Linked DNA regions of Homo sapiens: regions 1 and 2 are each linked to region 3. The links come from fine-mapping of genetic effects on gene expression. A gene starts in region 3. Each other region holds a variant in brackets. All regions are shown on one strand. Distances are from middle to middle.

Region 1 (2,764 bases), 88 kb before region 3:
GAACTCTTCAAATCTTTGATCAAAAATTCTCCCAAAACAACAAGATGTAAATATACCCCAGAAAGAAAAAGGGATTTGGACTACATTAAAGAAAATGAGACTTCCAACTCCATTTTTTCTCCTAGTTAAGCCTATTTCTTCTTTAAAAACATGAGGAAAAGATAGCTCCCTACTCTACTACGCTAAGGTTCTTAAAACAAACATGGGGCAGCAAAAAAGCACTAGCAGAAAGTGTCAAGTCTTTCAGCACTGGGAGAGATGCTCTTCTGGGCTTTCTTGGGAGCCCTGGCCTGAGGGGAGGCTCCAGCCCACTCCTGAAGCCCAGATACCTGCTTTCCCTAGTAACGGCCCTGGGCACCTGCCTTGAGGAGATGCTGCTGGGGATGCGTACCAAAGGGAGCTGCGCTTTTTACCCTGCACCTTTTTGAGCCTGCAGGATGATGCAAAAGCTGCCAAGTGACTGCGACAGCTGCAGCTTCTGAGCTGAGAATTTGAGTATCATGCTGACACTCAAGAAAATGAGAATTTTCTTATCATGCTGAATGTGAAAAAAAAAATACCTTCTCTTACAGAATAGGAAGCTTGCAGTGTGTGTATTCTCATAAAGTGAACGGATATCATGGGTGCCCAGGTAATCAGTGAAAATGATCCTTGGGCTGTCAAGTGGTTTCTCAGTGCCCTCTCTCTTAGGAGACTATGCAATTATGAGAAAATGATTTTCCCTTTATTTATTTTTATAGAGATGAGGTCTCACTACGTTGCCCAGGCTGGTCTCGAACTCCTGGACTCAAGCAATCCTCCAACCTCAGCCTCCCAAAGTGTTAGGATTACAGGAGTGAGCCACCACGCCCATCCGATTTTCCCTTTATTTATTTCACTGTCCCAGTGCCATGCCGTTGTTGCAGTAGTAACTTATTTTTTTTTATTTCGTTTTTCTTTTTCTTAACAGTTAAGGGAAAGCATCATTCCTCTTACTGATTTCAAGCTTGACTGAACCGGTCTCATTCTAGAAAGGAAATGCTATGTCCAGAAGAGCTAAACTGCTACATCTTTTTTTCTTTTTAACGGTCAAAATACATCAGTGGTTTTGAGTCAGTTTTTACTTCCCAGAAAGCAGTGCTTAAATACTTGAAACTGTGTGCTATGTTCTATTCAATGACCTGATTGTCAGACTCTTGTTTAGTGGCAACGTGTCATAGTATAATCATCCATTTCCTTGTATATTATCAAGTTATACTGTGAAGTCTGCCACTCTTTTGAGGTGGTCATCAAAGACACACCTTTTTTAACCAAGTGTCCTAAAGCATGTCTCTAAGGGTATATCACCATTATTTTTTATTCTAAAAAGCCGTGAAGCATG[T/G]ATTATGAGAACTGTTTTTAAACTATGCCACTAGTGGTGCAAAAAAAAAAAAAAAAAAAAAAAAAAAGAGGAGACAAAGCAAGGTATGTTTTCAGAGATTTGCCTATAAAATATTGGTTATATAAATATCCAGTTACCTTGGCATTAAGCATCATTAAATTCTTCAGGATTTTGGCTAAAGGTGGGCTTCATAATAGTTGTTAGACATTGGAAGAGATTTTGAAGAGCCAATAAATCATCTCTTACACAAGAGACCTTCAAACACAGCCCTGATTCTCATCTGCCAAAGATGAAATCTCTGTAGCTTTGTCTCCAAAAGTGTTATTAGTTGGTTGACCTCTCAAGGTCTCTTCAATCCCTAGGCACCAATTATTCTAAAACAGACGAGCTACTACTGTTAAAATTTACTACTATGTAAAAAACTTTTTGGGAGGCTGAGGCAGGCGGATCACAAGGTCAGGAGATCAAGACCATCCTGGCTAACACAGTGAAACCCTGTCTCCACTAAAAATGCAAAAAATTAGCTGGGCTTGGTGGCAGGTGCCTATAGTCCCAGCTACTCAGGAGGCTGAGGCAGGAGAATGGCCTGAACCCGGGAGGCGAAGCTTGCAGTGAGCCCAGATCATGCCACTTCACTCCAGCCTGGGCGACTAAGCAAGACTCCATAGCAAAAAAAAAAAAAAAAAAAGACTTTATCAATCCAGTTCATCAGTGTGCTATACTTCAGAAAGGCTTCCTTTCAGTTATTAACTGCAATGTCACAGAATCTAAAGGTAATGCCTCAGCACTTCTGTTGAATCTACAAGCCTCTCCATAAGAAGTGATCCAAACAAGAACTGGGGGAATTGAGAGTCCTGAGTGCCTCATATTTGAGAGGGACAAAATGCTGCAATTTACAATAAAGGAGAGGATCATCATACACATAAAGAAAACTGACAAAATACAACATTTAGGAAAATAAATTGCAAAAACTAAAGTTTGAGTTAAAAAATAATGTGAAGTTTTCAGACTATTAAAACAAAAAAACTTGAACCTCCATAACATTCTTTTCTGAGGATCAAATATCACATGTTATTAGCAGGAATAAGGTCTTTATGGAAAGGTATATGGCAAGATGCATTTAAAAGCTTTAAAAAAAATTTGCATCCTTTGACCCAGAAATTTCTCTCTTTTTTACAAGTGGGTAGTAAGAGGTACATACAAGGATGTTTGTTCACATAACATTATTTAAAATAGCAAAAACTTGTAAGATGTGGAAACATCTTAAAAGTACAACAACTGGAGATCAGGCTAATACATTACGATATATTTATATAACAGAATTCTATGCAATCATCAAAAATCATAGGACTTAATGACACAGGAAACTTCTCAAAATAAAATACAATACAGGGTGATAATTAA
Region 2 (2,764 bases), 30 kb before region 3:
AATAAGTGAATTTGAATAAATGAAATTGCAGATTATCCTAGGATTTTGCAGATCTGCTAGCTGTTGGCCTAATGCCAGAACATGAACTCTTGAAAAAAGTTTTTTTTAAAAATAAGCCTATCACGTTGCCATATATTATAATGGGGGATTAAATATAGTCACCCTAGTGGTACCTCTTACTGGCATATAAAGTCTAACTGGCACATATGCCAATAAAATGTACCTTACTAACATGTATGCCAGTTAGACTCTGTATATGCAGGTATATATATATATAGTAGGGACTTAATATTCTTTGTAGGATTGCATATATATGTAGCTAATACTAGTTACTTAAAACAGTTGGTTCTTAGATAGCTGTGGATTTGACCAGAATCAGGCAGAGGCAATAAATCTGAGTATTTATTGAGTAGGTGTGAGGAACTCACATAGACTGCCTGAAGAGTAGAGATGCATGGGGTTGGGGATGTGCTGGTAAGAGATGAAACAGAAAGAGGTGGGCCCACATCAGTCTGTGAAGGTAAGGCCCTTGCATGTCATTAGTGTCCCGGTATTATGTCACTGCTTTCTAAAGGAGTCTCATGTTAACAGTAGAAACATGTAAAATTTAGGAACCAGACGGAATTGTGATTTTAAATAAGCCAATCAATTTCCCTAGTCTGACTGTTCTTATCAGTAAACACAGAATACAAGGGATATAATGTAAGCACATAGTATTTGTAATAGTAGTTGACATTCATTGAGTGCTTTCAATGTGGTAGGTACTCTTGTTTATTTTAAAAGAAGCATTTTACTAGAATCATAGTAGAAACTTAGTGGTCAGACTTCATGTAGCATCACTTACAACCTTCATTGAATATTGTGAAGAAACTTAGTGGTCAGACTTCATGTACCATCACTTACAACCTTCATTGAATATTGTGAAGTGCTTGTTGAATCTGAGACTTAAAAATTTTGTTCTTTTAGAGGAAACATGGAGAAAGCCATTGACATGTTCAACAAAGCTATTAACCTGGCCAAATCGGAAATGGAGATGGCCCATCTGTATTCACTTTGCGATGCCGCCCATGCCCAGACAGAAGTTGCAAAGAAATACGGATTAAAACCACCAACATTATAAAACAGGGGGAAAGCAGACTGACCCTCTTTTTAAAAGTTTACCCCCTCTTCAACTGAACCCTAAAGACACTGTCATGAACTGTGTTGAATGGTGGAAATCAGTATTTCTGTTTGTGGTGTTGTTATTTGTTACATCTGTTTCATGTCTAGGTGTTGTGGGTGTGGCTGTTGAAGGAAGTTTGCAGTCTTGCAGCTTTTATTCCCT[G/C]TGCAACAAAAGATTAGAACATGTTAAAGGGATTTTTAAATAAAGTTGCAAAGAGTACAAATGATAATTGGCCATGCAAATAAAAACTGATTTGTTGATTTTTTTTTTAAGGGGGGTTGGCAGTTGATTATGTTCTGGATGATTCCGTCTATATATGTGTGAATAATGTAAGTATTTTACAGCATGTTGATTTTTAAATTAACGTAGTAAATGCTGTAAAATAGATTTATATTCAGTTAACCGCTTTCAGTTGATTTTTTGAAAGAAACAAAGGTTAAATGGGGGATTAAAGTAAAATTGAGAGACCCTTTAAACCATTGTCAGCATGCACAATGCCTCTGATTCTGCAGTTTTAGAAACTTGGTGGCACTTATTAATCCTCTTGGCCCCTTTCCACTCTAATGGATAGTGTACATTCTTCTTAAAGTCCACAACAGCAGATTTTCTTGCAGTAAATTATGCAGATGCAAAATATTCTAATTGATATATGTGTTGGAAGACTGAGTATTGATGGGGGAGTGGACCAGACAAAGAGGTAAGATGAAACAGTAGTGTGTTTATAATTGTCTGTGACTATTTTCTATAATAATTAGTACTATTTAATGGTGAGCTTTTAAAAATGTAGGATAGAGGGTACAGTGGCACTGTATATACTATTTATAGTCTCAGCTACTAGGGAGGCTGAGGCAAGAGGCTTGAGACCAGGAGCTCGAGGCTGTAATGTGCCATGATGATTGCACCTGCGAATAGCCACTGCACTCCAGCCTGGGCAATATAGCAAGACCCCATCCTTTAAAAAATTTTAGAACTTTTTTAAAATCAAAGTGCAGATTGCTTGTATGTAAAACCCAAATAAAGGTAGAGTAAGTGTGATATATGGGAGTATTAAAATAGCTTAAAATTTCTCGTGAAGGACATGTGGCTAAAGGGTCAAAAAGGATGTAAGACTTGGAGCCAGAGCATAGTATTTCCTGAAATAACAAGTTTAGTGCTTTAACTATGGCTACATGTGCTTAAGGAATTTTGAGCCACTTATTTTTGAAGATGCTGAGGACATGTAGAGTGCTTTTTGTAGTGAGCTAACCTTGATCTCTAAGGACTAACTACCCAGGTCCAGGTCTTCACTAGGGGTACTGACAGTGTTTAAGCTTTACTCCACCTCCTTACTTAGAAATCACTTTACGATTTATTTCCATTTTCCACTTTTATAGACCATCCTTTTGCTTATATGCTAGATTTTTCTGGTGAGGGAAGGGTTGTGTTCTTCAGGGGTCTTTTGTTTTGAAATACTCAGGATGGGGAGAGGTTTATTTAAGAACGAATTATAATTATGGTTTACACTGTTGGGAGTAAAGGAGCATTTTTACACCCCTTAAGGGTGCTTAATTCTGTTGAAACCAAAAAGATTTGTCTACAAATGCTATCTTTTTTAGAAACTAT
Region 3 (2,764 bases):
ATGATCATAAATACTAAGGGAACTCAGAGGCCGACGGGATCCTCCGTATGCCGAACGCTGGTCCCCTGGGCCCCCCTACTTCTTTCTCTATACTTTGTTTGTGTCTTTTTCTTTTCCAAGTCTCTCGTTCCACCTAACGAGAAACACCCACAGGTGTGGAGGGGCAACCCACCCCTTCAATTAGTAATGGCCTGCCCGAACTTCCCATCCCACCTCTGCTCCAGAGTCTGAAAATCCTACCATTAGAGAGCTATCTCTTTTGGGTGTTTCCTGTAACAACGCAAATGTCTCCAGAAAAGGCAACAATGACAAACCCTGGCCTCTGATGAAGGCCTGTTTGGCTCAGGGTTAACTAAAAGGAAAACTCAGATGTCCCATTCCTTGATCTATCCTAAATATAGTGAGAAGCACTAAATTTAACCCTGAAGGCAGCCTGCTAAATAGTTATAGAATCTGAAGGGAAACTAAAACAGGAAATAAAAGCTGGGATTATTCTGGGGCAAACAGATATTTTGAGCTGTTATCAGAACAGCAGATAAATCCACTAAACGTCTCCCCTCCATTTCCCAGCGTTAAGCCATTCTCCCTCCTCAGCTTCCCAAGTAGTTTGGGACTAAAGGGGCGTGCCACCACACCGGGCTAATTTTGTATTTTTTAGTACAGACAAGGTGTCGCCATGTTGCCCAGGCTGGTCTCCAACTCTTGACTCGTGAACTCAAGCGATCCTCGTGCCTCAGCTTCCCAAACTGTTGGGATTACAGGCGTGAGCCACGTGCCGGGCCATGTCTGTGCTTCCGAGGGTGGGAAAGATAAAGCTCACCATGGCTACGCTGATGGCTTCCTCTCCTACACATCTCACCCACAAGGGCGGGGTCCTCAACTAAGCTTAGGACTGCCTATCATTCTGCAAATGACCCACTCTACAGACATGCTGCAGCAGGGAAACCCCGCCACTGGGCAGTTCCTCATGCTGAGGAGGAGACGCCCGTCACTCCATCTCATCTGTAAAGTGAAGACTTTTAAGGCTGCCCTAATATTCATCATAATCTAACAACGAAGACCTTACCAAGGGGCGGAAAAAAAGAATAAAATACTGTGAGCGAAGGAAACAACAAAGGAATAACATTTAAAGCAATGTGCCAGGTCCTTCACACATTAACATCATTGTGTGAGGTATCATTAACATCATTTTACAAATAAAGAAACAGGGGACTTGCAGGGGGAAAGCTGCACAAAGTCACTGAACAAAGTAAGTGACACAGCAAGAATCCAAGTCAAAATCTGGAGCTGGAAAGTGAGTGGGGAGACGAAGAACCGCCTGGGCACCTTTGTGCAGGGCGGGGCTGGAGGAGGTCACGCAACTTGAAAACACCCAAGGGAGTTGGATCCTACCACCGCGGCCCACACCGTGGAGAAATACACGTCCATCAGCCTCTGTCAAGCAGGACGCGGCGGGTGCCGGCGCGGCCGGGTGGCCTGGTGCTTTCTGGGCCTCGCCCGCCACCCCGGAAGCCTGGAATCCCGGGAGTGCGCCCGGCCGCCCGGCCACGCGATCCCGGACCCACGCGGACGCCCGCCTCAGGGAAGGCCGCGCACGGCGGGGACGCGGGGCGGAGGGGCTGAGCCGGCCGAGCCACCGCCGGCGCCGCTCCAAAGCCTCCCCCGCGGCCCGAACTCGAGCTGCAGCGCGCGGCCGCGCCACTTACAGGTCATGACTCTGCAGACAAGCACCACCTGCGGCGCGGACTGAGCGCTGGAGATCCGGCGGACCGCGGCGTCGCTACGGTGGGGCGGGGACCGCGTCAGAGGCCCCGCCCCACCCCTCCTCCTGGCCCCGGCCGGGAGGAGAGAAGGGTCTGCGTTCATTCCAGTGCGCCTGTAACACCAGGACGGACCAACGAGAAATGGTTAATTGCAACACAGTCCGGAAAAAGCATGCCTCGAAAGGCAAAGGGCAAAAGGGAACGGCCTAAGTCGAGGTGGTGTGCTGGTGAATGTCTTAACAACCAGACTTTTCAGGGAGGAAAGCCCTGATTTGTAGCGTTTGCTGATTCTCCGCAAAAGGACTGAACTTCTAGCTGGTTGAATCACCTCTGTGGCCAGGTTAACACCGTATGCTGATGGGCTTGAGCTATTTGAACAAGTCTCTGTGACGGGGACGGAATGACCCTGGTTGGTTTAGGCACGCGAGACGTCTGTAAAATCTGACTACAAGGCTGCTAGGCCAACGGGAAAGATGCTGAGGGTTCAACGCCATGCCCTCAACAAGTCAGTCCTCGAATACATTGTCATCTCTTTGCTAATATCCTTTTTTGTTTGTTTGTTTTAGACAGGGTCTCACTCTGTCATCCAGTCAGGAGTGCAGTGCAGCAGTCTCAGCCCATTGCAGCCTCAACCTCCCGGCTCAAGCGATCCTCCGTCCTCAGCCTCCCAAGTAGCTGGGACTACAGGCACACACCACCACACCTAGCTATTTCTTTTCCTTTTTTCTTTTTCTTTCTTTCTTTCTTTTTTTTTTTTTTTTAAGTTTTTTACTTTTAATAGAGGTGGGGCCTTGCTATTTTGCCCAGGCTGGTCTCAAACTCCTGAGCTCAAGACCCTACTGCCTTAGCCTCCCAAAGTGCTGGAATTATAGGCGTGAGCTGCTGCGCCCAGCCTATAGACTATGATTTTTGCATTTTTATTTATTAGATTGCTTTTTAATTTTCGTGTTTTGTGTTTTTGTGCCTTGTCAGACTTGTGGAACAAAAATCCAAAACTTAAC

Alleles and levels. Alleles are on the strand shown, and positions count from the first base shown. SD is a standard deviation of normalised expression in the study named. Not every link is listed here.
As copies of T replace G in region 1, the expression in whole blood of the gene that starts at base 1,748 in region 3 goes up (small effect, 0.32 SD a copy in Lepik 2017).

Evidence for each region. PIP is the estimated chance that this variant, and not a neighbour inherited with it, causes the effect. A credible set is the group of variants that fine-mapping cannot tell apart.
Region 1: its variant is the best candidate, but not a certain one, in a credible set for the expression of NIT2 in whole blood (Lepik 2017, PIP 0.63).
Region 2: its variant is the best candidate, but not a certain one, in a credible set for the expression of NIT2 in sun-exposed skin (GTEx, PIP 0.76).

What each region holds. Positions count from the first base shown.
Region 1 is chr3:100,421,467-100,424,230 of GRCh38, reverse strand. The region is part of intron 1 of LNP1 (leukemia NUP98 fusion partner 1); the gene reads right to left. Among named protein-coding and RNA genes, the nearest start is that of LNP1, 21 kb to the right of the region's middle. The variant T/G (reference allele first, on the strand shown) is at 1,361.
Region 2 is chr3:100,363,920-100,366,683 of GRCh38, reverse strand. TOMM70 (translocase of outer mitochondrial membrane 70) reads left to right here. Exons shown (of 12, transcript NM_014820.5): 12 at 967-2,764. The coding sequence ends at 1,120. Among named protein-coding and RNA genes, the nearest start is that of NIT2, 31 kb to the right of the region's middle. The variant G/C (reference allele first, on the strand shown) is at 1,325.
Region 3 is chr3:100,333,741-100,336,504 of GRCh38, reverse strand. NIT2 (nitrilase family member 2) reads right to left here and starts at 1,748. Exons shown (of 10, transcript NM_020202.5): 1 at 1,707-1,748. The coding sequence starts at 1,713. RefSeq lists silencers at 726-1,020, 1,419-1,748 and enhancers at 989-1,068, 1,189-1,248, 1,269-1,318, 1,412-1,980.